7 linked regions of the Homo sapiens genome follow. The protein of the gene in region 1 purifies or fractionates together with the protein of each later gene. This does not show direct contact. Each region holds a gene or a part of one and is shown on either strand. Other genes may lie near its edges. The genes, in order: STAT5B, KANSL3, RPRD1A, PDHA1, PUS7L, RPA3 and DLAT.

Region 1 (4,253 bases):
TGATTTCCAGTATGGGTGAACACTGTTTCATATGATTATCGGCTATTTGTAGTTCTTCTTTTGTTCATTTTCTATTATGGGAATCATCTTTTTCTTACTACTTATATAGATTACTTATATATTACGAATATTTACCCATAATGCTTTGTCATATATATTAGAAATATTTTTCTTATTTTGTCACTTAGCTTTGGTTTCTGGCATTTTTTGGCATAAAGAAGTTTTAAATATTTATGTATACATATAAAAAGACATATGTGTATCTATAAGATGTATCTTCTTTTATTAGTTATTAAAGCCACTTATATCCTGTTCAAATTTACCAATAAAACTGGAATGTAATGTTAAGTTCTGTGCAAACTAGACCTCTTCACATTTGGGTAATAAAAATTCAAAACTAGCCAGGCTCAGGGGCTCACACCTGCAGTCCCATCTACTCTGGAGGCTGAGGTGGGAGGATCACTTGAGCTCAGGACTTTGAGACCAGCCCGGGCAACATAGTGAGACCCCACTCTTTAAAAAATAATAATAATAAATTAAAATAATAAATAAAATTCAAAACCATAAATTTTGAGAATATCACATTTTTGGACAAAATTTTAAATGTGTGTCTAAAGTAATACGTTTTCTTACTTAAGGACCCACTCCTGGCACACTTCACTCATCCTGGGCAACAGAGCAAGACACTGTCTCAAAAAATAAAAAAAAAAAAAAAAAAATCATTCCCTTAAAATTATATGCTTTTTGGCCCGGTGCAGTGACTCATTCCTGTAATCCCAATACTGTGGAAGGTTGAGGTGGGAGGTGTGGAGGTGGAGGTGGGAGGGATCACCTGGAGACATAGCAAGACCCCTGTCTCTATTTTTTTTTAACTATGTGCATTTTTCTGGTATTGCAAAGTCAAGGGATCTTGCCTCATCACCAACTCAGCATGTGAATTGTAGCCATGCCACTCAGGAAGCCAAATATTTTCTATTTTGTTTTGATACCTTCAACATGAGGAGAAAGGCCAATCTCTTCATACATTACAATGAAATTAGTATTTTTACTTGATATTTAAACTCACTGCAAGATAAACTCATTTGTAAAACATGACTACACTCAGAGTTTCCATATATGTAGTCAGGCACCACATAATGACGTTTCAGTCAATGACAGACCACATATATCACTGTGGTCCCATAAGATAATAAAACGTAGCTGAAAAATTCCTATCCTCTAGTGACGCTGTAGCCATCATAATGTTGTAATGCAATGCATGACTCACATGTTTGTGGCAATGCTGGTGTAAACAAACCCACTGCACTGCCAGTCATGTGAAAGTCTAGCACATACAATTGCGTGCAGTACATACTTGATAATGATAATAAATGCCTATGTTACTGGTTTATGTATTTACCATACTTTTTATCGTTATTTTAGAGTGTACTCCTTCTACTTAAAAAAAAAAGTTAACTGTAAAACAGCCTCAGGCAGGTCCTTCAGGAGGCATTGTTATCACAAGAGATGACAGCTCCATATGTGTTACTGCCCCTGAAGACCTTTCAGTGGAACAAGATGTGGAGGTGCAAGACAGTGATACTGATGACCCTGACCCTGTGTAGGCCTAGACTAATGTGTGTGTTTATGCCTTCACTTTTAAGAAAAAGTTTTTAAAGTTTTGAAAAATTAAAAAGTTTTTAAAGTTTTGAAAAATTAAAAATTATTTAAAAAGAGAAAAAGTAAAAGAATAAAAACATAAAGAAAATATTGTTGCACAGCTGTACATGTTTATGTGTTAAGCTAAGTGTTACTACAAAAGAGTTTAAAAGTGTAAAAAAGTAAACAGTTGGCCGGGCACGGCGGCTCACACCTATAATCCGAGCACTTTGGGAGGTCAAAGTGGGTGGATCACCTGAGGTCAGAAGTTTGAGACCAGCCTGGCCAACATGGTGAAACCCCGTCTCTACTAAAAATACAAAAATTAGCCAGGCGTGGTGGCACACGCCTGTAATCCCAGCTATTCGGGAGGCTGAGGAAGGAGAATTGCTTGAACCGGGAGGTAGAGGTTGCAGTGATCCGAGATCACGCCACTGCACTCCAGCCTGGGCCACAAGAGCAAGACTCCATCTCAAAAAAAAAAAAAAAAAGTAAAAAGTTTACAAAGTAAAAGTATTACAGTAGGCTAAGGTTATTATTGAAGAAAGAAACAATTTTCAAAATACATTTAATGTAGCCTAACCAGACAGTATTTTTAAAATCTACAGTAATGTACAGTAATGTCCTAGGCCTTCACATTCACTCACCATTCACCCACTGAGTTGCCCAGAGCAACTTCCAGTCCTGCAAGCTCCATTCCTGTTAAGTACCCTATATAGATGTACCATTTTTTATCCTTTATGCCATGTTTTTACTGTAACTTTTCTATATTTAGATATGTTTAGATACACAAATACTTACCCTTGTGTTACAATTGTCTACAGTACTCAATACAGTATACATGTTCCACAGGTTTGTAGTCTAGGAGCAATAGGCTTTATCATACAGCCTAGGTGTGCAGTAGGGCTCACCATCTACGTTTGTGTAAGTACCCTCTATGATGGTACCACAATGACAAAATCGCCTAATGCATTTCTTAGAACTTTGTCACCATGTATCATTAAGTGACAAACGACTATAGTTACGTAACAATAACCAAAGAAAAATACAAAAAGAGGGACTATTTACATTGTATCCTTACATATTAAACCTTCCATGCCTTCGGAATAAGAATCTAGTATCCAGTTCTCACTATACATAGCTTTCCCTCACTTTCTATCAGAAATGAGATAGGAGTCCCACCTTCCTGGCATCAGAAACAGATCACCAATCCTGCAAACAAATTCACAGGGTGAACTGTTTCATTTTTAAAGAGCTGTAGATTTCTGTAGATCTCTAATTTGCTACTTTTCCTAAACCTAAAAGATGACCAAAAGATTTTTAGAAACATTAAACAAAAAAACAGAATTAGCATTATTTCTAACAGAACATTTTACCTATTTAAATATACTGTAGAATGAATGCTATATTACAAAGCTGATGAATTCCAATTTTTAGTACTTTAAGAGATCAAGTGTTCAAGTTTCTTTTTATATAGGCTACAATGACATGTATGAATGTAACTTAACATTTAGCCCAGGTTAGATTTTTTAAAATCCCACTCCTTCAAAAACAGTGACTTGCCACCAGCTATAGGCTCTGAATTTATTTAATTTATTTATTTTTTTGAGATGGAGTCTCGCTCCGTCTCCCAGGCTGGAGCACAGTAGTGCGATCTCGGCTCACTGTAACCTCTGCCTCCTGGGTTCAAGTGATTCTTCTGCCTCAGCCTCCTGAGTAGCTGGGATTACAGGCGTGCACCACCACACCTGGCTAATTTTTGTATTTTTAGTAGAGACAGGGTTTCACCATGTTGGCCAGGCTGGTCTCCAACTCCTGACCTCACGTGATCCGCTTGCCTCGGCCTCCCAAATTGTTAGGATTACAGGCGTGAGCCACTGGGCCCGACCTAGGCTCTGAATTTTAGACAACAAAAAATAGTTTCTCACAAACTTTTTAACTTACTCTCACCTAAAGGCTGGAAAACCCCAGTGAAGGCTTTTAAAACTCATCAGACATAGAAAAAAAGAAGCAGCTTTAATTGTAGGATCTCACTGACACAAACATAAGGAAATTCTGAGTTATAGATACCTCACATTAAGCTTTTTCCACTGACATTGTAACTTCTGTCAACATTCAAAGAAAATTCAACCCTGGTCAAAGGTGACAGTTGACAATCCTGGAAGCTAACATCCTCTGTTTATTTGAACAAGTTTATACTCTGCACAGGGAATTGAAGTTCTTCTTGTCTGTGACTTGATCTCCCAAAGTTAAAGCACTACGCTTTAGGGTTGTGAATTCTGTTTCCAAGACTTAACTTCACAATCCACTCCCAAGGAAAAGTGCTGAGAGAAAGTAAGCATCATAAATGAAAAAAAAAAAAAAATCTGAGACTATTTTCTAATGGCCTTTGCAGAGCTCTAGACATACAATAGTTCAGTTGCCTTAAAAATTCGCCCAAATAGGCTGGGCATGGTGGCTTATGCCTGTAATCCCAGCACTTCGGAAGGCCAAGGCAGGAGGATCACCTGAGGTCAGGAGTTCGAGACCAGCCTGGCCAACATGTCAAAACCCCGTCTCTACTAAAAATACAAAAATTAGCTGGGCATGGTGGCACATGCCTGTAGTCCTAGCTA
Region 2 (4,253 bases), on another chromosome or scaffold:
GGCTCAAGCAAGCCATCCTCCCACTTCAGTTTCTGGGACTGCAGGCGCATACCACCATGCCTGGCTAATTTTTGTGTTTGTTTTAGAGACGGGGTTTTGCCATATTGCCAAACTGGTCTTGAACTTCTGGGCTTAAACAATCCTCCTTCAGCCTTCCAAAGTACTGGGATTACAAGTATGAATCACTGTGCCTGGCTATATTTGTCATTTATTTATTTATTTTTTGAGACCAGCTCACTCCTGGGCTTAAGTGATCCTCCTGCTTCAGCCTCCCAAGTGCTGGGATTACAGGTGTGAATCACTGTGTCTGGCTGTATTTGTCATTTATTTATTTATTTTTGAGACCAGGTCTTGCTCTGTCACCCAGGCTGGAGTGCAGTGATGCAATCATGGCTCACTGCAGCCTTGACTTCCCGGGTTCCAGCAGTCCTCCCACCTTAGCCTCCTTAGTAGCTGGGATCACAGGTGTGTGCCACATGCCCAGCTAATTTTTGTATTTTTGGTAGAGACAGGGTTTCCTCATGTTGCCCAGGCTGGTCTTGAACTCCTGAGTTCAAGCAATCCACCTGCCTCGGCTTCCCAAAGTGGTGGTATTACAGGTGTGAGCCAGTGCACCTGGCCCATATTTATCTTAAAAAAAAAATAGATGTTTATCATTTTTTATATAGACTCATTGAAAAAATGACTTTGTGTTCTTCCAGTACATACCATCATGTCTGAGAGGGCAGAGATCTAGACAAGTGTGGGAAAGATGACTTTGGATCAAAATTTTCTTGTGAATATAATGTGCTTATGCGTAATTTAAAGCTGACTGTATTAAAGATACATTTTTTGTCAACCAGATGATTGTTAAATACCTGTGAAGTATGTGTGGCCCGGTCCTATTTCCTCACCTGTTTACAGTGAATCAGACGTCCCAATAGATGTGGAGACGGTCACATCAACGCCTATGCCACTCTATGACAATCAGAAGGCACGCAGCGTGATGAATGAGTGTGAACGGCATGTCATCTTTGCCAGGACTGATGCAGATGCCCCTCCTCCACCAGAGGACTGGGAGGAGCATGTCAACAGGTAGGCTGCTCATCAGGAGGATGATCACTGCCCTGTAATTATTTTGTATCATCTTCATTGAAATAACACTTATTAGGACCTTATTTCATTTGCAGCAACACAAGTCAGAGTGTTCTCCAAAGTCTCACATTATAACTCTCAGTTCACCATGCTGTGTGTGAGCTCCTTGAGAGTAGGGCTTACATCTCAGCCATCTTTGCATACTTCACACTAGGACGTTGTCTGGCACACAGTAGGCATATAATGTTTGTTGAATAAATAAGTGAATTAAATTTGATACATATGACTAGCTCTGTAGTAGCTTCTGTTGTATAAGTTATGATATAGGGGTTACCCAAACTGCAAAAAAATGAAATGTACATTTGTAAGATATTGTGTTTAAATGGTTTATAACTAGGATGATGGAAGTTGTGAAGTCACATGAAAAGCTAACAGATGTTTGAGTGGCTTTTAAAAATAGATTTGCAGGCTATGGAGGGCACACTGAAGCCTATTTTCACGAGTATACTGGCTAGTTTTGTTCCCAAGCTTTCTACTGCCCCCAGGGGACTCAGCACTCCTCTCCTGGTTATTTGTCCCTGTTCATTTGGTAAACATTTACCTAATTACATAACAGCTTTTTGGGGATATTATTTACATACCATACAATTCAGCTATTTAATATGTACAGTCATTGGTTTTTAGTATAGTCAGAGTTGTATATTCATCACCACTATCAATTTGATAAACATTTTCATCATCCTAAAAAGAAACCTCTTACCCATAAACAGTTACTTCCCGTTTCCTCCCAGCTTCTCTGGTCCCTAGGAAGCACTAATTGACTTTTGTCTTTATAGATTTGCCTATTCTGGACATTTCATATAAATGGAATCATGCAATATGTGGTCTTTTCCTACTGGCTTCTTTCACCCAGCATGATGTTTTCAAGGTTTATCCATGTGGTTGCGTGTATCAGCACTTCATGCTTTTTATTGCCAAATGACATTACATTGTATGGATAGCCCACATTTTATTTATTCATTAATCAGTTGATAGATATTTAGATTGTTTTCATTTTTTGGCAATTGTGAATAATGCTATTATGAACATTTGCATACAAGTTTTTGTGTGGATCTAAGTTTTTAATTCTCTTAGTTATATACCTGGGAGTGGACTTGTTGGGTCATATGATAACTCTGTATTTAACCTTTGAGGAATTGCCAGACTGTTTTCCAAAGTGGCTGTACCATTTTACATTCCTACCAGCAGTGTATGAGAGTTCTAGTTTCTCCATATCCTTGCCAACACTTACTGATTTTCTTCTTTTTTAAAAAAATTATAACCATTCTACTGCGTGTAAAGTGGCATCTCATTGTGGTTTCAACTTATATTTTGTTGATGGCTTTTTGTCTGTGTATCCATATATCTACTATATATATAAGGAAATGTTACTTCTTATATCAGGAGTTGGTAGGTGGTAACTTTCCATAATTTTGGAGAACCCTTATTTTATAATAGAGAGAAAGAGGGGTAGAAAGTTTGAGGTGATTGACATGACTTCTGAAGCTGGTTGGAAGTTGGGAATGAGATTGAACAGGTGTGCTTGTGTGATCAAAACAGCAGCTGTTGAGGGAGGAGCAGTTCTGCACCTTGGTTGAAAAAGCTTGTGAAGAAGTTGGTTGGGGTCTTGCATTGGAATTAATTTAGTGCCTTAAGAAGCTCTTTTCTCACGCCTGTAATCCCAGTACTTTGGGAGGTTGAGGCGGGTGGATCACCTGAGGTCGGGAGTTCAAGACCAGCCTGACCAACATGGAGAAACTCTGTCTCTGCTAAAAATACAAAATTAGCTGGGTGTGGTGGCGCATGCCTGTAATCCCAGCTACTCGGGAGGCTGAGGCAGGAGAATCACTTGAACCTGGGAGGCGGAGGTTGTGGTGAGCCGAGATCGTGCCATTGCACTCCAGTCTGGGCACCAAGAGTGAAACACCATCTCAAAAAAAGAAAAAAAAGCTCTTTTGAGCTTCAGATAAAGAAGAAAACTGCTACGAATGAAGATCAACTACTGGAATATTGCTAGAGTCAGTATATTCAGCAAAAGGATTTATCACTATTTTTACAGTTAATAATAAAAAATAACGACGATGGTAATAACAAAAAGGAGCTACCGTTTGTTGAGTGCTTTCTAGGTGCCAGACATTGTATCAATGTCTCTTCAAATGCATTGTCTCTTAATCCTCCCAATGACTCTTGGAGGTATATCCCCCCTTCATCTCTGCTCAACAGGATGAAGAAACTGAGCTCAGGGTGTTTAAGAAACCTTAATTAGGAAGTGATGGAGAAGGATTTTGTTCAAACCAAGCAGCCTGACTCCAGAACCCAGTGTTCTCAACTACCATACCCTCTGCCTTAATTAAGGGCAGTAAGAAGAGATTAAGACCAGTTAGTGGTGGCTGAACAAGGTGGCCTGGTATGGTTATGTATCCCTTTGTGGTATTTTCTACTACCTTGTCCTTTGCAATTTCAGAAAGTACATAGGAGAACTGTGTGATTTTTTTTTTTTTTGTCAGTTTATCCATGGTTATGATTAAGAGGTTTTTGTGGACAATTCATACTTATCAAAGTCATTAGAGACTTAATAATACTATAAATACCAGTTTGTTTCTTTTTTCTTTTTTTTGAGACAGGGTCTCACTCTGTCACCCAGACTGCAGTGCAGTGGCACGATCTCAGCTCACTACAAGCCTTGACCTCCAGGACTCAGGTGATTCTCCCGGGTGGGAACCTTAACCTCCCAAGTAGCTGGGACTACAGGAGTACGTCACCATTTCTTAATTTTTGTAGTTTTTGTAGAGATTGGGTTTCACCATGTTGCCTAGGCTGGTCTCAAACTCCTGGCTCAAGTGGTCTGCCCACCTTTGCCTCCCAAAGTGCTAGGATTATAGGTGTGAGCCACTGCACTTGGCTGAGTTTCTTAATTTATAAGGAGAGATATAACTGCAAAGCATAAGAGACACTGGGGTGGCCTGGCCAGAGTGTCTGTTCTCAGCAGGAAAGTCTGGAAAACCATTTTATTTCAGAAGTGAATAGATGAGTGGAGAGTCTACACAGGAGGCACAGCAGAATAGCTGGATGTACACATCTTTCCTCTAGGCAAGATGAGTCCACGGAATAGGCCAGTGTGCACCTTCTCCTGCCTGTCC
Region 3 (4,253 bases), on another chromosome or scaffold:
ATATAAATTCTGTTTTTGTAAACAGTGACAAATGACCATCATCATAAGTGAGAAAGTATAAAGCAGAATAAAGTTACAGTCTTCTCTTCAATTTTCAAAAACATGAGACAATACAGGCTTCAGGGTTTGATATTTATTTTTAGCAGGAAGAATATACTAATGGTGACGACATCGTTAGAAGATACGCCCATGTCCAATATCTGCAACAGAAGCTCAATAGAAGTTAAAGAAACCATACTAAAAGACTAAAGACAAAAATTGTATGACATTACTTACCCTTAATTCTGTGGACAATAAAACAATTAACACTATGTTTAAAATTGAGGTTTCATCACAAGGTGAAATAGTGGCAAGTTAATTATCAAATTCATCTTTTAAAAAAAAAAACCATCTTTTCCTTTCCATGTAGAAGTGGGCAACCTCTTCAAAGGTATAGTGGCCACCAACTATCATCATCTGAGGGTATTTATACGAGCAGAGAAGGAGTAAATTGCAAAGGAGTAGTGCTAACTTGAGAGCTGGGAATTTGAGGTGGGAATAATTAAGTAGCAGCTCCCATGGGTAGCAATGGCAATCTAATCTAAGCACCATTTTTGGCACAATTAGAGACTGCTGAATCAATAACTAAACACTAATAAAAATAACTTAATGGGGTAGTACCATGACATTCCTACAAATTTACAGTGAGCTTTCTGTAAATAAAGGGATTCAAATTAGAAATTCTCCTACATATTATTACAATAAGAAATTGCCACAGCAATACAATTTAAACAAGAACTCATCAACTGAAAGATTTTTTTTACATAAAACCAAATCTGGCTCATGTATCCCTAACAATTGCTACTCTAATCAAAGGAAATACGAGCATTTTTTAAAATCACCTCCTGTACTCCCAGATTTCTCATTAGCGGTATTAATTATTACTTAATTTACAGGAGCAATGAATTTCTGCCTAAGAGTGTGAGCCGGGAGTGGGGCTGGAACATGTAAGCATTAGAATTGGCGGGTGGAATTAAGGGAGTAATTTAAAGACTTAATGGTATACCTAAAAGACTACATCTTCTCAAAACAGAAACTAAATAAATCCTACTACAAGTGACTGCCACCTGCTATTTTCCTATTATTTCTGTGATACATTAGGGTTAAACTGGTAAGATAAATTATAGTTGCATGGAATTTCACAAGAATAATTTTTAAATGCAATCAATTTTGCTAATTCCAAATTTCTAAGTTTACTTGCAAGATTAATTTGGTTCAAGTAGAAGAAAAACCATTAATACAAGGAGAAGCTTACCTGGGCTACTGCTTAAAAAGGTCTATGTTAAAAAATGCAAAATGTGCACATAGATTAAAATATTTTAAAATTCCTAACAAAAAGAGAATTAAATAAATAAGCACTAAAGAAGAAAAAGGTTACGCACTTCCAATTTATGCTCTTTCTCTGCAAGGGCTTCCTTTTGACAACGAAGAAAATCTGCTAACATTCGAGTGAGTTGCTTTCTATCATCTATTTCTGCCGCCAATCTGCCATTGTAATCTGCCAGCAACATACACGCATCCTCTACCATTTTGGAAAGCCTTTCTCCAGATTCTTTATCTAAGAAAAGCACGGGATAATAAAATATTATACAACAAAAACAATGACATATGCTGTTCTCTCATCCCAACTCCCAAAAAAGTTCTGGATCACATTTTCTTTTCTTACCTGTTATTTTATCTAATAGAGATACTTCTTGGACTTCAACAGGTAAAGAAGCTATCCTCTGATGAACTGCTGCATCACCTGAGGCTGCATTTTCCAGATCTTGTAATGCTCTAACGAGATCTAGAGTCTAAAAAGTACACAACTTCAGAACCAAAATAAATTGAGCTTAAACAAGTGCAAAAGACTTTAATTTCATATTCTTTCATCCCTATGGGCTATTTACTAGTACAAAGCTCCTAATATAAACTGCTTTTGAAGACAATCAATTTCTTTCATATGTTAAGAAAAAAGGAGGCTATACTATGTTAGGTGTTGAAAATATAAACAGGACAAGGCCCTAGACCTTGAAGAGAGCTTACTCCAGTGGTGGAGACAGAGTAATAATAATTATTTGAGTACTAAAATGAGGTAATGAGGATTTATATGGCAAATACATCAGTGGTGAAAGAGAAGGTAGGCTATAACATCAACCTAGAGAATACAAGTTTTATGTATGATATATTCATTACATTATCATTGTACACTAGAAGTTTTTTTAGTATTAAATTGGATATTATGGAAAGAGGGTTACAAATCATCTACTACAACACAGAAGAGTCTCCCAGATTTCATTTCTAAATGCTGTAATTAAAGCCCAAGAGAAATGTAGTTCTAGAATATGTTCAAATATGATATCTTCAAGTATCCTATGGCTTGTTAATAAGATTAAAATATTTCAAAATTCCATAATCTGATGACTAATATATATTGCTTAACCAGTACTGAAATTATTTTATCATTAAAATATTTTACTTCCACTGTTTTCATACAAGCTATAATTAGGAGGGAAGCGCAACTCTTTGCTGGTGATTTCACAACTCATAATGTCTATAAAGTTATTCCAAAGAAAAACAATTAAATTTTATTTTTACTAGTTTCCATTCTCCAGCCCATCTTTTTCATCTTTCTTTCTTAATTTCTAATACTAGATTCAGAAACACTAGGAAATTACACATATGCTTTAAAAAATATAGGATATTAGTAATTCTGTGTATATATTAAGATTTTTAAACTATTCCCTTGAAAAAAAGGGTAGCACATGACAAATGATCAAATGTGGTAGGAATGAATGAAACTAATAAGAAATATACTATCCTACGTGTGCTCACTCATTAGAAGTGTTTAAAATTTCAGTATTTTAAAAAATAATTTTGTTGTAAGATATATCCCCTCTACAATTAAGGTGTGCTTAAGAGTAACAACAATTACCAGAAAGCTTGTTTCTCATCTTGCCACAACTAATATATTATTTTTAAAATCATTCTTAGAAAATTCTAATTGTCTGGAGTTCTAAGAAGAAATCTGGCTTTATTGTCTTGGCAATGCATTGATGCTTTAATTACAACCTGATCTCATCACACCTTCACAGTCCTACATGAGTACATTCTAAGTTCCCAATGCCTGATCAAGCATCAGATAAGAAAGCAAAGTTGTCTGAAACAATACTAAGCCTACTACTTCCTACCAGAGGAGAATGAAATGAGTTTAACGGGAACCTACAAAGAGATTTTAGCCATTCTTATAAAGAATAACACACACACAAAAATGAAGACCACAAAGCTGAACCATTGATAATTAAGCAGCACAACTAATCTAAAAAACGATCATTATAAAACAAAGAGCAACAGCATTTTACACAAGTACTAGAGGAGAGGCAGATGATTACTTAAAAATACTCCTAAGATATGCAACTGTGGTTACCCTTTCATCAGGGAGAGCGGAAGGAGACCAGATCCTTTATCTAGAACTTAGGTAAAACACTGTTCATAGAATCATGAGGCTCTTAGCCAAAAATGATTTTCTGTCATGAGTTATTACCAAATAGGAAGAGACATAAATCTTAGTGTTTGGTTGTTCCAAATGTAACATTCTTATCACTTTTCTATTCAAGCTCTTGTCCATAGTGGCCAATGGGCTTCAGCATTCCTATCACTGAACAAACAGGTAGGCTGACTCAGGTCGTGGCCTTGGTCTGATTCCTTCTGCTTCTCCAGTACTGAGACTAATATAAATCCACAGTTACAGGTAGTAATTGATTGTATTTTTCTTTCACCTTCATGGGGGAAAGAGCTCCTCCCAGCCTCTGATTTTATTCAGTGAATTTGGAACCAGTCCTCTAACTCCCACGGAGCACTGTGAGTTCCTGTTGCCCTTGTGAGTTCCTGTGACCTTAAAGGATACTAATTTCTGGCAACCCCATGTCTGCTTCGGGACCAGGGCTCAGCAGGAGCCAGGTTTTGTCTCACCTATGAAGTTAGGTGTACAATTTCTAACCCATGAAAATACATTCGCCTTGTTTTAAGAGTATGGTTATGTCTTCATTTTCTCATTTTACACTTTATCTGTCCCGCCTACATGTTTGAAACATAGAAGGAGGAAGCTTAAAGACTCAATGCCCACTTAAAAAAAAAAAAAAAAAAAAGTCTTTCTGGAATTAATCTGATGGTTAAGGAATACCATACCATACCAACATGTAGGAGGACACAGAGTGTTAAGATAATAATTCTAA
Region 4 (3,997 bases), on another chromosome or scaffold:
ACGCCTGTAATCCCAGCACTTTGGGCAGATCACGAGGTCCACAGATCGAGACCATCCTGGACAAGATGGTGAAACCCCGTCTCTACTAAAAATACAAAAAATGGTTGGGCATGGTGGCACGTAACTATATTCCCAGCTACTCGGGAGGCTGAGGCAGGAGAATTGCTTGAACCCGGGGGTGGAGGTTGCAGTGAGCTGAGATTACACCACTGCTCCAGCCTGGGCGGCTGAGCAAGACTCCATTTCAAAAGGAAAAATAAAACCTAGGTTTAAAAAAAAACAACACATAATAGAATCTTAATATATTAGAAAGGAAAAGAAACAGTCCGGATATAATTTTGTGCTGTTAATTCTTCATCATTCACTAACTGATGAGAACAAGGACCCCAAAATGAAGTTGACAAGATAAAGCAATTAATGTACTGAAATATAAATAGGAAGGGGAAGGTATGGCTCCACTGCTAGAGGTTCCTGCTTACTTATAAAACAGCAGACACCTAAAAGGAAACATTATAAATCACCATCCAAATCTACTCATCTCTCAAACGGTAGGATATGAAGCACTAGGTCTTTAAAAGCAAACCAAGCCCCCAAAATAGTCACGCGTCACTTAACAACAGGGATATATTCTCAGAATTGCATCACTAGGCGATTTTGTCATGTGAACACCATACTGTAATGCACGAACCTAGATGGTACAGCCCACTGCACACCTAGGCTGTATAGTAGAGCCTACTGCTCCTAGGCTACAACCCTGCACAGCATGTGACTCTACTGAATCCTGTAGGCAAAATATTTGTGTACCTAAACGTAGAAAAGGTAATGTGTTGTGCCACTACAACATCACTAGGCGACAGGAATTTTTCAGCTCCATTATAATCTTATGGGTCCAACATCATATATGCGACATTGACCAAAGCGTCACTGTGCAGCACATGGCTGTACTACTTCAGGAAAAGTTGTCTGGGGCTGTGAAAGTTTTTGAAGACAAAGTCCAGGGCCAAATCTAAAGCAGCACACAATCCTCGTCCTTGACTACCTGCGCTCCCACGATGCCATTGCCCCCGTAGAAGTTCTTGGCATACATGTGCATCGATCCTCCTTTCCCTTTAGCACAACCTCCTTTTCGTCCTGGAAATGGCAGAACATACACATGTGCAGAACAAACCAACTCTACAAAGCAAACCAAACCGCACCCCAAATATGTACTCTGAGGCTCAACCATTAGAACACAGAGGCCAGTTCAGTCGTCTAAGTACCTGTCCCTCCAGGCAAACACATGTTTCTCCTTGTCCTTTCACTAGTTCCATGTGCTTCAACCTTTCCAGCTTTTCCTACTCTCTAGTCACTTAGTTTCCTTCAGATGTTCCATCCAGATGATACCCTGGACTTTTCTGGGTTTTCTGGCCAGTTACAAACATCTTAGGACCTCTCCTATACTAGTACACTAAATATATTCAATCCTTGAACAGGGTTTGAACTGCACAGGTACACTTATACACAGATTTTTTTTCAGCCACACATGTATTGAAAATAGAATATTCTCAGGATGCAAACCCGAAGATATGGAAGGCTGACTTTGGGACTTGAGTATTTGAGGATTTTTGTATACTCGAGGGTCCTAGAACCAATCCCCTGGATATATAGAGGGACAACCATAGTTCAAGAGTCAAGGAGGGCCGGGCACGGCGGCTCACGCCTGTAATCCTAACATTTTGGGAGGCCGAAGAGGGTGGATCACCTGAGGTCAAGAGTTCAAGACCAGCCTGGCCAACATGGTGAAACCTGGTCTCTACTAAAAATACAGAAATTAGCCAGGTGTGGTGGTTGGGCACCTATAATCCTAGCTACTCAGGAGGCTGAGGCAGGAGAATTGCTTGAACCCGGGGGGCGGAGGCTGCAGTGAGCCAAAATCATACCACTTCACTCCAGCCACTCCAGCCTGGGTGAAAGAGTGAAACTCTGTCTCAAAAAAAAAAAAAAAAAAGGAGGAGGAGGAGGACCGGGCACAGTGGCTCACGCCTGTAATCCTAGCATTTTGGGAGGCTGAGGCAGGCCACTGCACTCCAGCCTGGGCAACAAAGCGAGACTCTGTCTCAAAAAAACAAAACAGGCCAGGTGCGGTGGCTCACGCCTGTAACCCCAGCACACTTTGGGAGGCCAAGGCAGGTGGATCACCTGAGGTCAGGAGTTGGAGACCAGCCTGGCCAACATGTTGAAACCCCATCTCTACTAAAAATACAAAAATTAGCCAGGTGTGGTGGTGCATGCCTGTAGTCCCAGCTACTCAGGAGGTGGAGGCATGAGAATCACTTGAACCCGGGAGGTGGAGGTTGCAGTGAGCCGTGATCACACCACTGCACACCAGCCTGGACAACGGAGTGAGACACAGTCTCAAAAAAAAAAAAAAAAAAAAACCACCAAAACAAACAAATAGTCACGGGGGACAAAGAAAAGGGGAATATTAAGAAGATTTCTAGAATTTACATTGCATACCATGGAGTGCTTCAACCGAACTTACTTTCTATGACTGCTAGACTTCTTCTGGCATGCTTGAATGATAACCAAACCTACTGTGATTTTATAGCACCAACCTGTTTTAAACTTTTACCTGAGGGGCCAGAGAACTTCACAAATGGTCAGTTAACTCAAGAGCACAACAGAAGTACCAGAGCACCAAAGGAGAGAGGGTTAAAAAAAGAAACTTAAAATTTTTAACAAATATTAACTCATAATAGCATCTTAATGACAGATATTTAAAAACTTAATCCACTCATTTCCCCTTTCTGTAAATCAACAGCAAACCTGTAAGCTCTGCGAGAATTTCTCGGACGGAAAGGCCCCGGGTGAAAGTAAAGCCGTGAGCCCGGTAGGCTGTGATGAGATGGTCTGTGGGGTTGATGCCGGCCTCCAGGCCCACACAGCAAGCTTCCTGTGTTAGAGGAAGGAGAAACTATGAGGCAATATGATACATGTTTCTAAATAAAAACGTTTCCTAGACCACAGTGAAATATGTGGGCTAGTAGAACCTGTCATTAATAACCAGAGAAAGTAGCTATTTTCCACCAAAATACAGAGTGGAAGGCCCAAACCAGAAGCAATAAACTGGCAACCCACACATGTGCCACTTCCTTCCTTTCTCCTGTATGATGACCTAAAAGAAAAGCCTACATCAGATGTCAACATTAAAACACTGGGGAATTTCACATGAAAATCCAGACTTCCGCCTTCTCTTAGACATGGAAAACAGGAAACATTACCCCTGATTTCCACATGGCACCAACTGGCTGGAACCAAGTCATGGCATTCCTCTGGGTAGGGCATGCTGGTGCCAGTTCAGCATGAGTCCCTGTCACCATTTTCTGTTTTGTATACCTAGCCTTCTTCACTCATTTATTCTACCTGGCTGGCCCTTGTAGGTATTTGACTCTAACCCTTGACCTAAGCCCACAAAACAAAAAACAAACTAATCCTTTCTCTCCAAATTATATACAGTACAGGCGATCATAGTGCCAGAAAGTTTTAAAATAGTAAAACTCTAAGAACAGGTACAGAAAACTGGCAATGTTATGTGTGAATGAATTCTTTAGCCTAAGCTTCATAGCAGGTTTTGGCATTCTACTTTTTAATTCTAAAATACTGGCTTCAGCCAGGCACAGTGGCTCACGCCTGTAATCCTAGCACCTTGGGAGGCCAAGGTGGGCGGACCACTTGAGCCCAGAAGTTTGAGACTAGCCTGGGCAACATAGTGAAACCCCGTATCTCCAAAAAATACAAAAATTAGCTGGGTGTGTTGGTGTGCACCTGTGGTCCCACATACTCGGGAGGCTGAGGTGGGAGGATTGCTTGAGCCCAGTGGACAGAGGCTGCAGTGAGCCAAGATCACACTGTACTCTAACCAGAGGCTGCAGTGAGCCAAGATCACCACTGTACTCTAACCTGGGCGACAGAGAGAGACTGTCTCAAAAAAATAAATAAATAAAAGAAAATTACATTA
Region 5 (4,253 bases), on another chromosome or scaffold:
AGGGCAAGAAAGTGAGGGAACTGTACAGGAAATTAAGTAATTAAGGAAAGTAAGTATATCTTATATATTCCTTAGGAAATTAGGATATGGAGAATTTGTAGTGATTTCTATATGGCATGATGGAAAGGATTGAGAAGGTGTGATTTGCTAAATTGGTTCAGATTAGTAGAATACATTATAGGTATGAGATGATGGTCCAGATGATGATAAGTTACTTGGAGAATGTGGGGGAAACACAGAACTCACTAGTATGGGGCCCCTGGGCAATTTATCTTTCCTGCAGCTCCATATGGTATGGTAGCCATGGGTTTGTGTGAAAAGTGAGAGATCAGAGTACTATTCTCTTGCATAGTGTTTCCAGGAAGCTCTGTAAGGGTTTCTTCTGTCTGATGCCAATGATATAGTTAGAACTTTCCTCTGGCTCAACCTTGAAAGCTTCTATTTGTCCTAATGGGGGCATTAGAGAAGGCCCAGGACTGACTTAATCCTACCTTGAAATATAATCAAATCACAAATTTGTATTTAGAACTTCATTTACCCATCAGTTTTCCTATTGTCTTTTTGTCACCTCTCCTGTCACTAACCACTAATAATATAAGAAAACTTAGCCACATGTTCTCTGGAATTAGCTGGAAATTTTAGGCTCCAGGAATGGAATTTGGACAAATCTTTGTTTTATAGTCCTGTGTTCTCACCTCTTCTTGTGAGCCTACAAATGATATTTTTAAGATAAAATTGACTCATTTTAATCCTGGATAATAGGTACAAATCTGGAGTGAGTGAAGATACAAGTTAACAAATCTTTAGCTATACCAGAAATAGTTTGCCTATTAATTCAGCTTGGTATAGGAGAGTCAAAGTACACAGGAAGTACATATAGTTATAAATTAAGTTAATGATACCATTTAAGAAGACTCAGAATTAAAAGAGAGACAGAATTAACTAAATCCTGCAAACCTATTCCTATTTGGTCATCCATAACTTCTCTTTCTGTTAACTAACCACCTCTTTGTTTTGTTTTCTAGGCACTGTTATAGAAGAATGGAAGAAGATACAGATTATAGAATCAGGTTTAGTTCTTTGTGTTTCTTTAATGATCACGTTGGATTTCATGGCACTATAAAAAGCTCACCAAGTGACTTTATTGTTATTGAAATTGATGAACAGGGACAGTTAGTTAATAAGACCATCGATGAGCCTATTTTCAAGATTAGTGAAATACAACTTGAGCCAAATAATTTTCCCAAAAAACCAAAACTAGATCTTCAAAATCTGTCCTTAGAAGATGGAAGAAACCAAGAAGTTCATACTTTGATTAAGTACACTGATGGTGACCAAAATCATCAGTCTGGTTCAGAAAAGGAAGATACTATCGTTGATGGAACTTCCAAATGTGAAGAAAAAGCTGATGTTTTAAGCTCCTTTTTGGATGAAAAAACTCATGAGTTACTGAATAATTTTGCCTGTGATGTAAGAGAGAAGTGGCTTTCTAAAACAGAGCTAATTGGACTACCTCCTGAATTCTCAATAGGCAGAATCCTTGACAAAAACCAGAGGGCTAGTTTACACAGTGCCATTAGGCAGAAATTTCCATTTTTAGTAACTGTAGGAAAAAACAGTGAAATTGTTGTAAAACCAAATCTTGAATATAAAGAACTTTGTCATTTGGTATCTGAAGAGGAAGCATTTGACTTTTTTAAATATTTGGATGCAAAGAAAGAAAATTCCAAATTTACCTTTAAACCTGATACAAACAAAGACCACAGAAAAGCTGTCCACCATTTTGTCAACAAAAAGTTTGGAAACCTTGTGGAAACCAAATCTTTTTCTAAAATGAATTGCAGTGCTGGTAATCCGAATGTGGTGGTAACAGTAAGATTTCGGGAAAAAGCACACAAACGTGGGAAAAGGCCTCTTTCTGAATGCCAAGAAGGAAAAGTTATATATACAGGTAATTTAATAAATCATCATCCATTTTCTTGGATAAGCTTAGCTAAATTTAAAATTGTGAAAATGAATTGAACAGACTTGGCTAGAGAGATTGGAAAGAATATATGATTTACCTTTAGGGAGAGGAATTGCTGATAAGCAATTTAAGCAACTCTAGGAATTCTTATTTATTCTGTTACTTACTAGAAGATGATAAAACCTTTTAAATTACACTGAATTTAAAAATTAGCCTTACTGATAACCTAGGCATTTATATTAGCCTATTCACAAATGTATAAAGTTGAAGCAGTTGGTTCGTGTTTAATAAGTTTTATTGAAGGTAAATCTTGATTTCATATTTTGGAAGTCATCTCAATTAAAATTAAGTTTTTAGAGACTAGAAGAATATATTTACTGTGCTTGGGAAAGTGAAGAGATACTCTGTAATCCAAAACAAATTATATTTCCCTACCCAAGGTAGGGAACCTGAAAACTTGGTCCTGCTGGTCTTTAGACAAGATGTTCTGAAACTTTAGCATGCATATAATCATCAAAAGTTCTTGTTAAAACAGATTTCAGAGCTCCATTCTCAGTTTCTGATTCTGGGGCTTTCACAGATTTCCAGGCAGTGTTTTTTCCTGGTCTGCTATGTTTTGAGAATCACTGTTTTAGGGTCTGTGTTTAATTCCCATGGTGGCTGGAACTGATGAACTCTCACTGTAAAAGTCCAGCTGACTAGGTTTAATTGGCCTCAATTCTACTTGAAGGATGGGAACTGTTTCAGATGATCATATTTAATAAATTTATTTAGCAAGATATTTTAAGATAAAACCAGGAACCTAAATTTGCACAGTGACACAGAAATAGGATGGTGCCATGTAGGGACTACAGGTGCAAATGAAAAGAGTTTGGACCTTGGAACTATGTGGGTTTGATTTGATATTATGACTTTTAGTTCACAAAAAGACTTATGAAATTTTTAACATGTTTAAGATTTGATTTCACAAATGTAAAAATGGGAAGAATAATACCTTGGGCAAGTTACTTAATAATTCATAACTTTTGGTTGTACTTGAAAAATAGGGTAATAGGAAAGCCTGACTCACAATGATATTCGAAGGATTAAATGAAATAATGAAATTGTTTACTATGTAATAGTTACTTAATATTAGGCATATAGTAAGTGTTAACAGATATATCCATTTTGAAGGAAAAACAATACTAGCTTTACTTGTAGAAAGAGGAATTGCTGGTGAGTGATTTAAGCAGCTCTAGGAATTCTTATTTATCTTATACTACTTGAAATTCTAACAATATTAATTTGGGTTAATGAGTAAAAAAATTATAGAACTTTATATATTAGTTTAAATTCACTTTTCTAAAGTTGTGAATAGTTGGAGGCATATGTTAAAAGGAGGAATGATGGTTCAAAAAACCTTTTATTTTTAATTTTAAATTACATTAAAATATACATAACATAAAATGTACCATCTTAACCATTTTTAAGTATCAGTGGCATTGAGGACAGTCACATGGTTGTACATCCCTCACCACCATTCATCTCCAGAATTTTTTCACCATCCCAAACTAAAACTCCATATTTATTAAACAATTCTTCCTCCTCTCCAGTTCTGAAAAATGGGAACCACCATTTTTCATTCTGTCTCTATGGATTAGACAACTCTAGGTGTCTCATATAAGTGGAATCATACAGTATTTGTCTTTTTGTAATGGGCTTATTTCACTTAGTATGTTGTCGAGATTCATCTATGTTGTAGCATGTGTTAGAATTTCCTTCCCTTTTAAGGCTGAATAATACCCCATGGTAGGTGTATGCCACATTTTGCTTACCCATTTGTCTGCCAGTGGATGGGATATAATGGTCAGTAAAGCACACGTGATATTTACTTTGTAAGCATTCAGCCTTGGAACTTGGAAAGAATTTGAGGGAGAATGTGGATGTGAGGTGACTTCTGAGGCTAGGTCATAAAAGTATTACACTTCTTGTCATGTTCTTGGATTGCTCACTCTGGGGAAAGCCAGCTGCTATGCTGTGAGGATACTCAAAACAGCCCTTTGGACAGGAACTAGAGCTTCATGCCAACAGCCAGTACCAACCTTCCAGCCACGTAAATGAGCCCCTTTGGGAATGGATCCTCCAGTTTCTTTCAGGCTTTTAAATAACTGCAGCCCATCAGAGTGAACAGGCAACCTACAGAATGGAAGAAAATTTTTGCAATCTACTCATCTGACAAAGGGCTAATATCCAGAATCTACAAAGAACTCAAACAAATTTACAAGAAAAAAACAACCCCATCAAAAAG
Region 6 (4,253 bases), on another chromosome or scaffold:
TGTTGTATTTCAGTCGTCATTCTTCTCTTAGCCTCCTTCATTAAGACCTTATTCAAATTTGGATCATGGTTCTGCTGCGACATCCACGCCATTATCATCTAAATAGCAATTACATATTCAAACACAACAGCTTCTCCTTAACTGTCTGTAACTTAACATTTTACATAGATTCAAGTGGGAATTAAGAATAAAATGAATCTTTTCTTCGTGATTTACAACCCTCCCTTTCACCCTTGGTTTACTAGTTAATGTTGAATAAGCTACTTGTAGACGAAGGAAGACAAAATTATTGATTGCTCAGCTTTAGTTTTGTAGAGAGATATATATTATAAATTGTTTCTGTATTAAACAGTTACCCAAGTGTCAGTGACCCTTATTCAATCACCCATGTATTTATTAGACAGCATTTACCATTTTGGATATAAGGGGATCAGGTCTAACACTCTGTTAAGAAATTAATAGGATCTTTTACAAAAGCAGCAGTGCTTTATAACTTGAAACATTGAAAGGAAACCTTTAAAAATAAGTCAACATATTTGTCCTTTTGGGACAGACCTCAAAAATAGAAGCAAATTCCATTAAAGTAGTAATATACTTTTCCTACTACTTCGTTTTGGCCATCTTAAAATTATATTTTATAATTAGTAAATAAGCTGATTTGACTGAAACGAGCAACTATGTTTATTGGAGACAGACCCAGCTTTTCAACAGATAGAATGTTAGGACTTTTTTTGCCCATTAATATGTGGTTTAAAGGGAAGTTATAACAAGACACCAAATGCATATGTATATATACAAATACAGGCAGTTGTATGTTTTTAAGAAGTTTTTAACCAGCAAGGGGTGTGTGTTTGTGTTTGTGTGTCTGTGTGTGTGTGAGAGAGAGAGAGGGAGAGAGAGAGAAAGGGAGAGGAAGGGAGAAAGTGTGGGAGGAAAAGAGGAGAGGAGGAGAAGACAGAAGAGGAAAACAGTCCTAACTATTAAAAATACCAATTAACTACTTAATAACACATCTTTCAGTGTCTTGCATAATAATTTCTTAGATATTTTGCAAAATTCGGCATGGTTAAGGGATTTTGTAATGGTTAAATAATTTTATTAGTTGTTTGAAATTGACTGTCTTTGTTTTCCTATCTGTGTGCTGAGATTTATCTCAATTATATGTGTGAATAATGTTATGCATGGGGTTACTTTTAATATGGATTTAACTGAGATTCTAGACTATATTCTTTGTAAATATGAACATTAGAAACTTGTTCAATTGTGGGTCGTCATTAATTCAAGTCAGGAAGGCTCACCCTTTGTCCTCACACCATCTCTTAAGAAGATAAGTCCTGTGGATAAGCTGGAGAGGTCAGATGTTGGTGTTGACTTAAAGCATTGCCACCCGAGGAGGGCAGAATGCTGTAAAACAAAGCAGAAGGAACTGTGTGGAGAGAAGGTGAATGACTGGGGGACTTGAAGTTGAAAGAAAAGTCAGGCGCTGAGCCTGCAAGGGCAAAATGAGGCTTGTGGGATAAGAATGGTTTGTCAGAAGTCACCTGTTTGCTCAGAAGTCATCTTTCCCTAACAAGGGTCTGTTTGGTATGTTCCTGTATTACAATTTATAATAACTGTTTTTTTACCTGCTGAGGGTAAGATCTTTAAAGTGACATCTTACCAGCTATTATTCTTAGCTCTTGCTTATGCAAATCTCAATTTGAAAAATAACCTTTTAAAGTTTTTTTTTTTAAATAATGAGAACATATTCAGAATGACAATGTGATGAACACCTGTGTACCCACCAATTGGTTTAAGAAATATAATTTCTTGTTAACCTTGAAGTTCTCTAAGTCTTCTCCTTACTCCCACCTCAGAGGTAAATTCCACTCTTTAAATTCTGCTTTTTTGGGGTCTCTTTTTAAATAGTGTTAACATATTTTTCATATGTGTAGTTTTGTATGTTTTACAACCATATATAAATCGAGTCACTCACAATGTATGTACAATATGTTCTTCAGCAATTTGCCTCTCTCACTCAGTATCATGTATCTGGTCTCATCTATATTGCTCTATGTATCTTTAGTTCTTTCATTTTTATTTGACATTCCATTGATGAATATACCACAATTTATATATCTGTTCTGATGATGAACATTTGGGGTTTTGTTTTGTTTTCCTAAAAACAGTGCTGTTACTGAACATTAGTAGGCAGAAGAAAAAACAAAACACCTTGATCTGTGTCTCACACTTTATGCAAAAATTGCCCAAAATGAAAGGACTAGTCCCTAGAATAAGTACTTGCAAAACTCAGCAGTAAAAAACAAAAAACAAAAAAACATAAAACCAAATTAGAAAATGGGCAAAAGACATGAAGAGACATTTCACTGAAGAGGATATACATATGGCAAATAAGCACATGAATAAGTGTCATTAGCCATAATGCAAATTAAAACCATAATGATAGGTCTCTACAAACCTGTATCAGAATAGCTAAAATAAATAGTAATAACACCAAATGCTGGTAAGGATGAAGAGAATCTGGATCACTTATTGATGATAGGAATGTAAAATGGTACAATTACTCTGGAAAATAGACAGTTTCTGAAAAGCTGAATATGCAGTTACTATACGACTCAGCAATTACACTTTGGGCATTTATCCCAGAGAAATTGAAGACGTATATGTGCATAAAACTGAGTATTTATAGCAATTTTATTCATAATAGACCCAAACTGGATACACACCAAATATCCTTCAACAGGTGAATGGTTAAATCTATGGTATATCTATATCATGGAATAATACTCAGCAAGAAGAAGTAACAAACTGTTGATATATACAACAACCTGGATGAATCTCCAGAGAATTATGCTGAGTGAAAAGAGCCAATCCCTAAAGGTAACGTACTGTATGACTTCATTTATGTAGCATTCTTGAAATGACCAAACTGTACACAAAAAATAGAGAAATCATTGGTCGCCGGTGGGTAAGGATGGGGTGAAAGTTAGAGGCAAGTGTGTGTGGCTATAGAAGGATAACACTGGGGATTCTGGTGGTTATGGAGATGTTCTGTATCTGGTCTGTGTGAATGAAATATCCTGGTTGTGGTATTGAACTATAGTTTTGCAAGATGTTGCCATTGTGGTAAACCAGGTAGAAGCTACATGGGATATTTCCATATAATTTCTCCAATCTGCCTGTGAATCTAGAATTATCTGAAAAAGTTCAATTAAAAGACAACATGATGCTGTTACAAACATCCTTGTACATGTCTCCTGGTGCACATATGTGAGCTTTCCTCTAGATTTTATTTCCGGGAGGAATTACAGGCTATGCACATGTTAACTTTAGTAAATCATGGCAAATTTTTTTCCCAAGTGGTATATGAAAATTCTATCCTTTTCATATTATACTCTATCCTTTTTAAGGATATTGTACTTCAAGGATATTATACTCTATCCTTTTTAACATGTAATACTGTGAGACTTAAATTTTTATCAGTCTGTTGGTTAGAAAATGGTATCTTGTGTTTTTAATTTACATTTTCTTGTTTATAATGGAATTGGACATTTTTATTTATGTTTAATAGTCATATGTGGTTTTTTTGCTCAGTAAAATCACTATTGATCTCTTTTCCCTGCTGTATTGTCTGTCATTTAAAAAGTTGATTCTAAGGGGATCTAGTTACAAATTTTGTTGCATTTTAATGACTTATGTTTTTCTTTTTATCTGTTAATGAAGAGACATTTTGATGTGACAGTTTTAAAATATATAAAACTTTTCCTTAACTTTCATATTTCAGTCTGATTTAAAAAGTCCCTTCTTGGAGATCAGAAAGTCATCTTCCTATAGCATCTTCTTATAGCTCTATGGTTAACTTTGGTTATAGTGTGGTATAGCGATCCGATTTTAATTTTTTTTTGTAGGGATAACCTATTTTCTTAGTACTATTTTGGATTAATTCATCTTCTTTTCTTCACGTATCTTCCAAGCTTACTCTTACATATATAGTATCTTTGGTTCTCCTACTTTATGAGGCTATTTTTCTCTCTCTTAGCCAATGTCATAAAGCTCATTATATTACCATCCTTTAAAACCATCTCAACCTTCCTTTGTTCTCTGCTTTTCTATATAATGAAGCATCAGTTGATCTTATGCCAAATAAATAAAAAATGAATAACAGATGGATAATCACTCAAACCTACCCACTCTGATGTGATTTTTGTTGAAATTTTATTGAACATATAGATTAATTTAGGGGAGAATTGCTA
Region 7 (4,253 bases), on another chromosome or scaffold:
CATTGCACTCCAGCCTGGGCGACAAAGCAAGACTCTATCTCAAAAAAAAAAAAAAAAAAGGCTGGGTGCGGTGGTGGCTCACGCCTGTAATCCCAGCACTTTGGGAGGCACAAGGCAGTCAGATCACGAGGTCAGGAGTTCAAGACCAGCCTGGCCCACATAGTGAAACCACATTTCTACTAAAAATACAAAAATTAGCCGGGCGTAGTGGCATGCACCTGTAGTCCCAGCTACTCAGGAGGCTCAGGCAGGAGAATCGCTTGAACCCAGGAGGCAGAGGTTGTGGTGGGCCGAGATCACGCCACCGCACTCCAGCCTGGACAACAGAGCCAGACTCTGTTTCCAAAAAAAAAAAAAAGAAGTGTTTAAAATGAAAAGGCTCCTGGGCCACAATAGACTTCAAAGTTCAACCAAGGTAACACTTCTCTAGTGACTAGTCTCTATAGTGACACTGGTATTCAAGTTAAATGGTGAAGCAGAACTACTGTTTCCAAAGTTTCTGTGTTTTTAAGAAACAGAATCCTTTCTTCAAATAAAATTTATGGGGAAGCACAAAATACAAAAAGATAGAAAAGAACTGCTCTGCTGGAAGTAAGGCAGGGAGGCAGGGCTGTAAGGTCCTGCTCTTTAATTCCCCCTTTGCCTCAAGGTGCCTTAAAGGAATGATGGGATTTGAAGAACACAATCTGAAAACAACCAAGGCAGAGGATGCCCAGTACCTCCCATTACATCTTTGGGAAAGGCTTCCCTTTGGTGGTGATTATGAAGCAGAGAGGCTGGGTGCGGTGGCTTATGCCTGTAATCCCAGCACTTTGGGAGGCCGAGGCAGGCAGATCACCTGAGGTTAAAGAGCTCGAGACCAGCCTGGCCAACATGGTGAAACTCCATCTCTACTAAAAATGCAAAAAATTAGCCAGGCATGGTGGTGCATGCCTGTAGTCCCAGCTACTCGGGAGGCTGAGGCAGGAGAATTGCTTGAACCCAGGAGGCGGAGGCTGCAGTAAGCCAAGATCGCACCACTGTACTCAAGCCTGGGTGACAGAGCAAAACTCTGTCTCAAAAAAAAAAAAGAAAAAGCGGGGGTGCAGAGAGAAGAAATTCATAATACTACAAATCGCCATGGCTCACGCCTGTAATCCCAGCGCTTTGGGAGGCCAAGACAGGTGGATCACGAGGTCAGGAGATCAAGGCCATCCTGGCTAACACAGTGAAACCCCATCTCTACTAAAAATACAAAAAATTAGCCAGGCGTGGCAGCGGGCACCTGTAGTCCCAGCTACTCGGGAGGCTGAGGCAGGAGAATGGCGTGAACCCAGGAGGTGGAGCTTGCAGTGAGCTGAGACTGCGCCACTGCACTCCAGCCTGGGCAACACAGCGAGACTCCGTCTCAAAAAAAAAAAAAATAATAATAATAAATATATTATTGTCTATATGGGTTTTTTTAGCCTAAAAATGAATTAAGAAGGAGATATGTGGACATATGACATATCTGAACATATATATATTACACACATACATTCTATCAGTCATTCTCAAACTATGAAAACAATCTCAACCCTGGTTTCAGTTTTCCCTCAAAGTCATCTTAAATTCTTTGCTATTATCCTGCCATGGAAGTGATTTTCTCCTGTTTCTTCTTGACTTCCTTTGCCTAGTTTAGACAGCAGCAATTCTGATATAGCTTCTCAGTAACATAATAAGGCCAAGAAGCAAACTTGGGCCTAAAAATAATCTGTGAATTGACAGATTGATTGCCTTTGATTCAGTGAGCACAGGATGGAACTGACAAATCTGACTACGCATTATTTTTGTTATAAATTATGCTGGGCCAGGAACAGGGGCTCACGCTTGGAGTCCCAGCACTTTGAGAGGCCAAGGCAGGAGGATCGCTTGAGCCAGGAGTTCAAAACCAGCCTGGGCAATAAAGTGAGACCCCATCTCTACAAAAAATTTAAAAAATCAGCTAGGTGTGGTGGTTCAGGCCTGTAGTCCTACCTACTTGTGAGGCTAAAGCAGGAGGATCATTTGGGCATAAGCCCAGGAGTTCAAGGCTACAATGAGCTATGATCTTGCCACCGCACTCCAGCCTGGGCAACAGATTAAGACCCTGTCTGAAAAATAAGCAAATAAACAAATAAATAAATAAAAACTAAAGAATACATATAACTAAATAAAAATAAAATATTCTGTCCCAGAAAATGAATCCTAAGAATTATAAAGTTTTCATATTATCACTCACTCATTATAGGAAAGAATGGCAATCCTCTTCCTCATTGGGAAACTCAGTGCCTCAACCATTAAGAGCTGAAGAAATCTCACCTATAGTGGCTTTGTCAGTTTCTATCTCTGCCAGTAAGTCTCCTTCACTTAGCTTCTCACCCACTTTTTTTTCCCATCTCTGAACTGTGCCCATGGTCATGGTGGGAGAGAGGGCAGGAAGAAGTACCTGCAGAAACAAACACATATTATTGCTTAATACCAGGAAGACTTCTACATAATAAAAGTCTGGCAGACTTATGTGGTTTCATAGAATGATGGTGACTATGATAATCCAAATACTCACCACAGCAAAAGCTTCACACCTCAATAGCTTCCCACCAGGTAAATCATCCTTCAAATCTCATACTCTGACCCATACTCTTATACTCTCGCCCACACTCTAACACACACTCCAAGTTAAATGCAACAAGCACATGGGAAAGATTTCTTTCAGACAGTCAAAATTAATTTCTCAACATCTAAGTATGGAGCATCTTTTCATCTATTTTTATTTTTATTTTTATTTTGAGACAGAGTCTTGCTCTGTCCCCCAGGCTGGAGAGCAATGGCGCAATCTCGGCTCACTGCAACCTCCACCTCCTGGTTTCAAGTGATTCTCCTGCCTCAGCCTCCCGAGTAGCTGGATTACAGGCGGGTGCCATCATGCCCACTAATTTTTGTATTTTTGTAGAGATGGGGTTTTACCATGTTGGCCAGGCTGGTCTCTGAACGCCCATCCACAAGTAATCCGCCCGCCCTGGCCTCCCAAAGTGCTGGGATTACAGGCGTGAGCCACCGCGCCCAGACTTCATTTTTTTTTAACCAAGAAGTTTTTCATTTTCACAAAATGACCTTGGTCCAAACCATTCTGTTAAAATTTTACTGCGCTCTGTACTTAGCATCTACCTATTTTTTACCCACAGGAAACTGCATTTGTCCCAACCTTACCAGATATCTTTCCAAGATAAAAACGTAATATTAAGAACTGTTCTGTGCTCGCTTCAGCAACACATATACTAAAATTGGAACGATATAGAGATTAGCATGGCCCCTGCGCAAGGACAACAAATTCGTGAAGCATTCCATATTAAAAAAAAAAACATTATTTGGTGACAATAGTTAATAACAATGTATTGTATTCTTGTAAATTCCTGACAGTAGATTTTTAAGTGGCCTAAAAGATAAGTCTATAAAGTAATGCATATATAAATTAGCTCAATCTAGCCATTCCACAATATATACATATTTCAAAACAACTTGTTGTATATAATATATGTACACAGAATTCTTACACAGAATTTTATTTGATAATTTTTTTTTTTTTTGAGATGGAGTCTTACTCTGTTGCCCAGCCTGGAGTGCAGTGGCATGATGATCATTCAAAAAAATAAAACAGGAGGCCAGGCACAGCTGTTCACATCTGTAATCCCAGCACTTTGGGAGGCCAAGGATCACTTGGGAGGGGCGGATCACTTGAGGCCAGGAGTTCAAGACCAGCCGGGCCATCATGTCGAAACCCCCTCCTCTGCTAAAAATACCAAAATTAGCTGGGCATGGTGACACCCACCTGTAGTCCCAGCTACTCAGGAGGCTGAGGCATGAGAATCGCAGAGGTTGCCGTGAGCCAAGATCGTGCCACTACACTCCAGCCATGGTGACAGAGCAAGACTGTCTCAAAAAAAAAAAAAAAAAAAAAAAAAAAAAACAGGAAAGACCAGCATGGTGGCTCATGCCTATAATCTCAGCATTTTGGTAGGCTGATGCAGGAGGATCACTTGAGCCCAGGAGTTCACGACCAGCCTGAGCAACATGATGTAACCTCATCTCTTAAAAAAAAAAAAAAAAAAAAATTAGCTGGGCATGGTGGCACGTGCCTGTAGTCACAGCGTCTTGGGAGGCTGAGGTGGGAGGATGGCTTGAGCCAGGAGGTCAAGGCTACAGTGAGCTAAGATTGCACCACTGCACTCCAGCCTAGGTGAAGAGTGAGACCCTAT

Evidence for each region.
Region 2: the proteins of STAT5B (region 1) and KANSL3 purify together in Homo sapiens (affinity purification with mass spectrometry; one large-scale study listed by BioGRID and IntAct). This does not show direct contact.
Region 3: the proteins of STAT5B (region 1) and RPRD1A fractionate together in Homo sapiens (co-fractionation; one large-scale study listed by BioGRID). This does not show direct contact.
Region 4: the proteins of STAT5B (region 1) and PDHA1 purify together in Homo sapiens (affinity purification with mass spectrometry; one large-scale study listed by BioGRID and IntAct). This does not show direct contact.
Region 5: the proteins of STAT5B (region 1) and PUS7L purify together in Homo sapiens (affinity purification with mass spectrometry; one large-scale study listed by BioGRID and IntAct). This does not show direct contact.
Region 6: the proteins of STAT5B (region 1) and RPA3 purify together in Homo sapiens (affinity purification with mass spectrometry; one large-scale study listed by BioGRID and IntAct). This does not show direct contact.
Region 7: the proteins of STAT5B (region 1) and DLAT purify together in Homo sapiens (affinity purification with mass spectrometry; one large-scale study listed by BioGRID and IntAct). This does not show direct contact.

Annotation. Positions count from the first base shown.
Region 1 is NC_000017.11:42,265,847-42,270,099, forward strand, and holds part of STAT5B (signal transducer and activator of transcription 5B), read right to left. Parts: exon of another isoform or gene 2,440-4,253; intron 1-2,439. UniProt on the Homo sapiens protein: Carries out a dual function: signal transduction and activation of transcription. Mediates cellular responses to the cytokine KITLG/SCF and other growth factors. Binds to the GAS element and activates PRL-induced transcription.
Region 2 is NC_000002.12:96,628,133-96,632,385, reverse strand, and holds part of KANSL3 (KAT8 regulatory NSL complex subunit 3), read left to right. Parts: intron 1-842; exon of another isoform or gene 843-903; coding exon 904-1,074; intron 1,075-4,253. UniProt on the Homo sapiens protein: Non-catalytic component of the NSL histone acetyltransferase complex, a multiprotein complex that mediates histone H4 acetylation at 'Lys-5'- and 'Lys-8' (H4K5ac and H4K8ac) at transcription start sites and promotes transcription initiation.
Region 3 is NC_000018.10:36,025,479-36,029,731, forward strand, and holds part of RPRD1A (regulation of nuclear pre-mRNA domain-containing protein 1A), read right to left. Parts: intron 1,833-4,253; coding exon 1,706-1,832; intron 1,598-1,705; coding exon 1,422-1,597; intron 201-1,421; coding exon of another isoform or gene 120-200; exon of another isoform or gene 1-119. UniProt on the Homo sapiens protein: Interacts with phosphorylated C-terminal heptapeptide repeat domain (CTD) of the largest RNA polymerase II subunit POLR2A, and participates in dephosphorylation of the CTD by RPAP2.
Region 4 is NC_000023.11:19,350,216-19,354,212, reverse strand, and holds part of PDHA1 (pyruvate dehydrogenase E1 component subunit alpha, somatic form, mitochondrial isoform 1 precursor), read right to left. Parts: intron 2,954-3,997; coding exon of another isoform or gene 2,933-2,953; coding exon 2,806-2,932; intron 1,132-2,805; coding exon 1,040-1,131; intron 1-1,039. UniProt on the Homo sapiens protein: The pyruvate dehydrogenase complex catalyzes the overall conversion of pyruvate to acetyl-CoA and CO(2), and thereby links the glycolytic pathway to the tricarboxylic cycle.
Region 5 is NC_000012.12:43,752,034-43,756,286, reverse strand, and holds part of PUS7L (pseudouridylate synthase PUS7L), read left to right. Parts: intron 1-1,025; coding exon of another isoform or gene 1,026-1,041; coding exon 1,042-1,951; intron 1,952-4,253. UniProt on the Homo sapiens protein: Pseudouridine synthase that catalyzes pseudouridylation of mRNAs.
Region 6 is NC_000007.14:7,708,062-7,712,314, forward strand, and holds part of RPA3 (replication protein A 14 kDa subunit), read right to left. Parts: intron 1-4,253. UniProt on the Homo sapiens protein: As part of the heterotrimeric replication protein A complex (RPA/RP-A), binds and stabilizes single-stranded DNA intermediates that form during DNA replication or upon DNA stress.
Region 7 is NC_000011.10:112,031,597-112,035,849, reverse strand, and holds part of DLAT (dihydrolipoyllysine-residue acetyltransferase component of pyruvate dehydrogenase complex, mitochondrial isoform 2 precursor), read right to left. Parts: intron 2,447-4,253; coding exon 2,320-2,446; intron 1-2,319.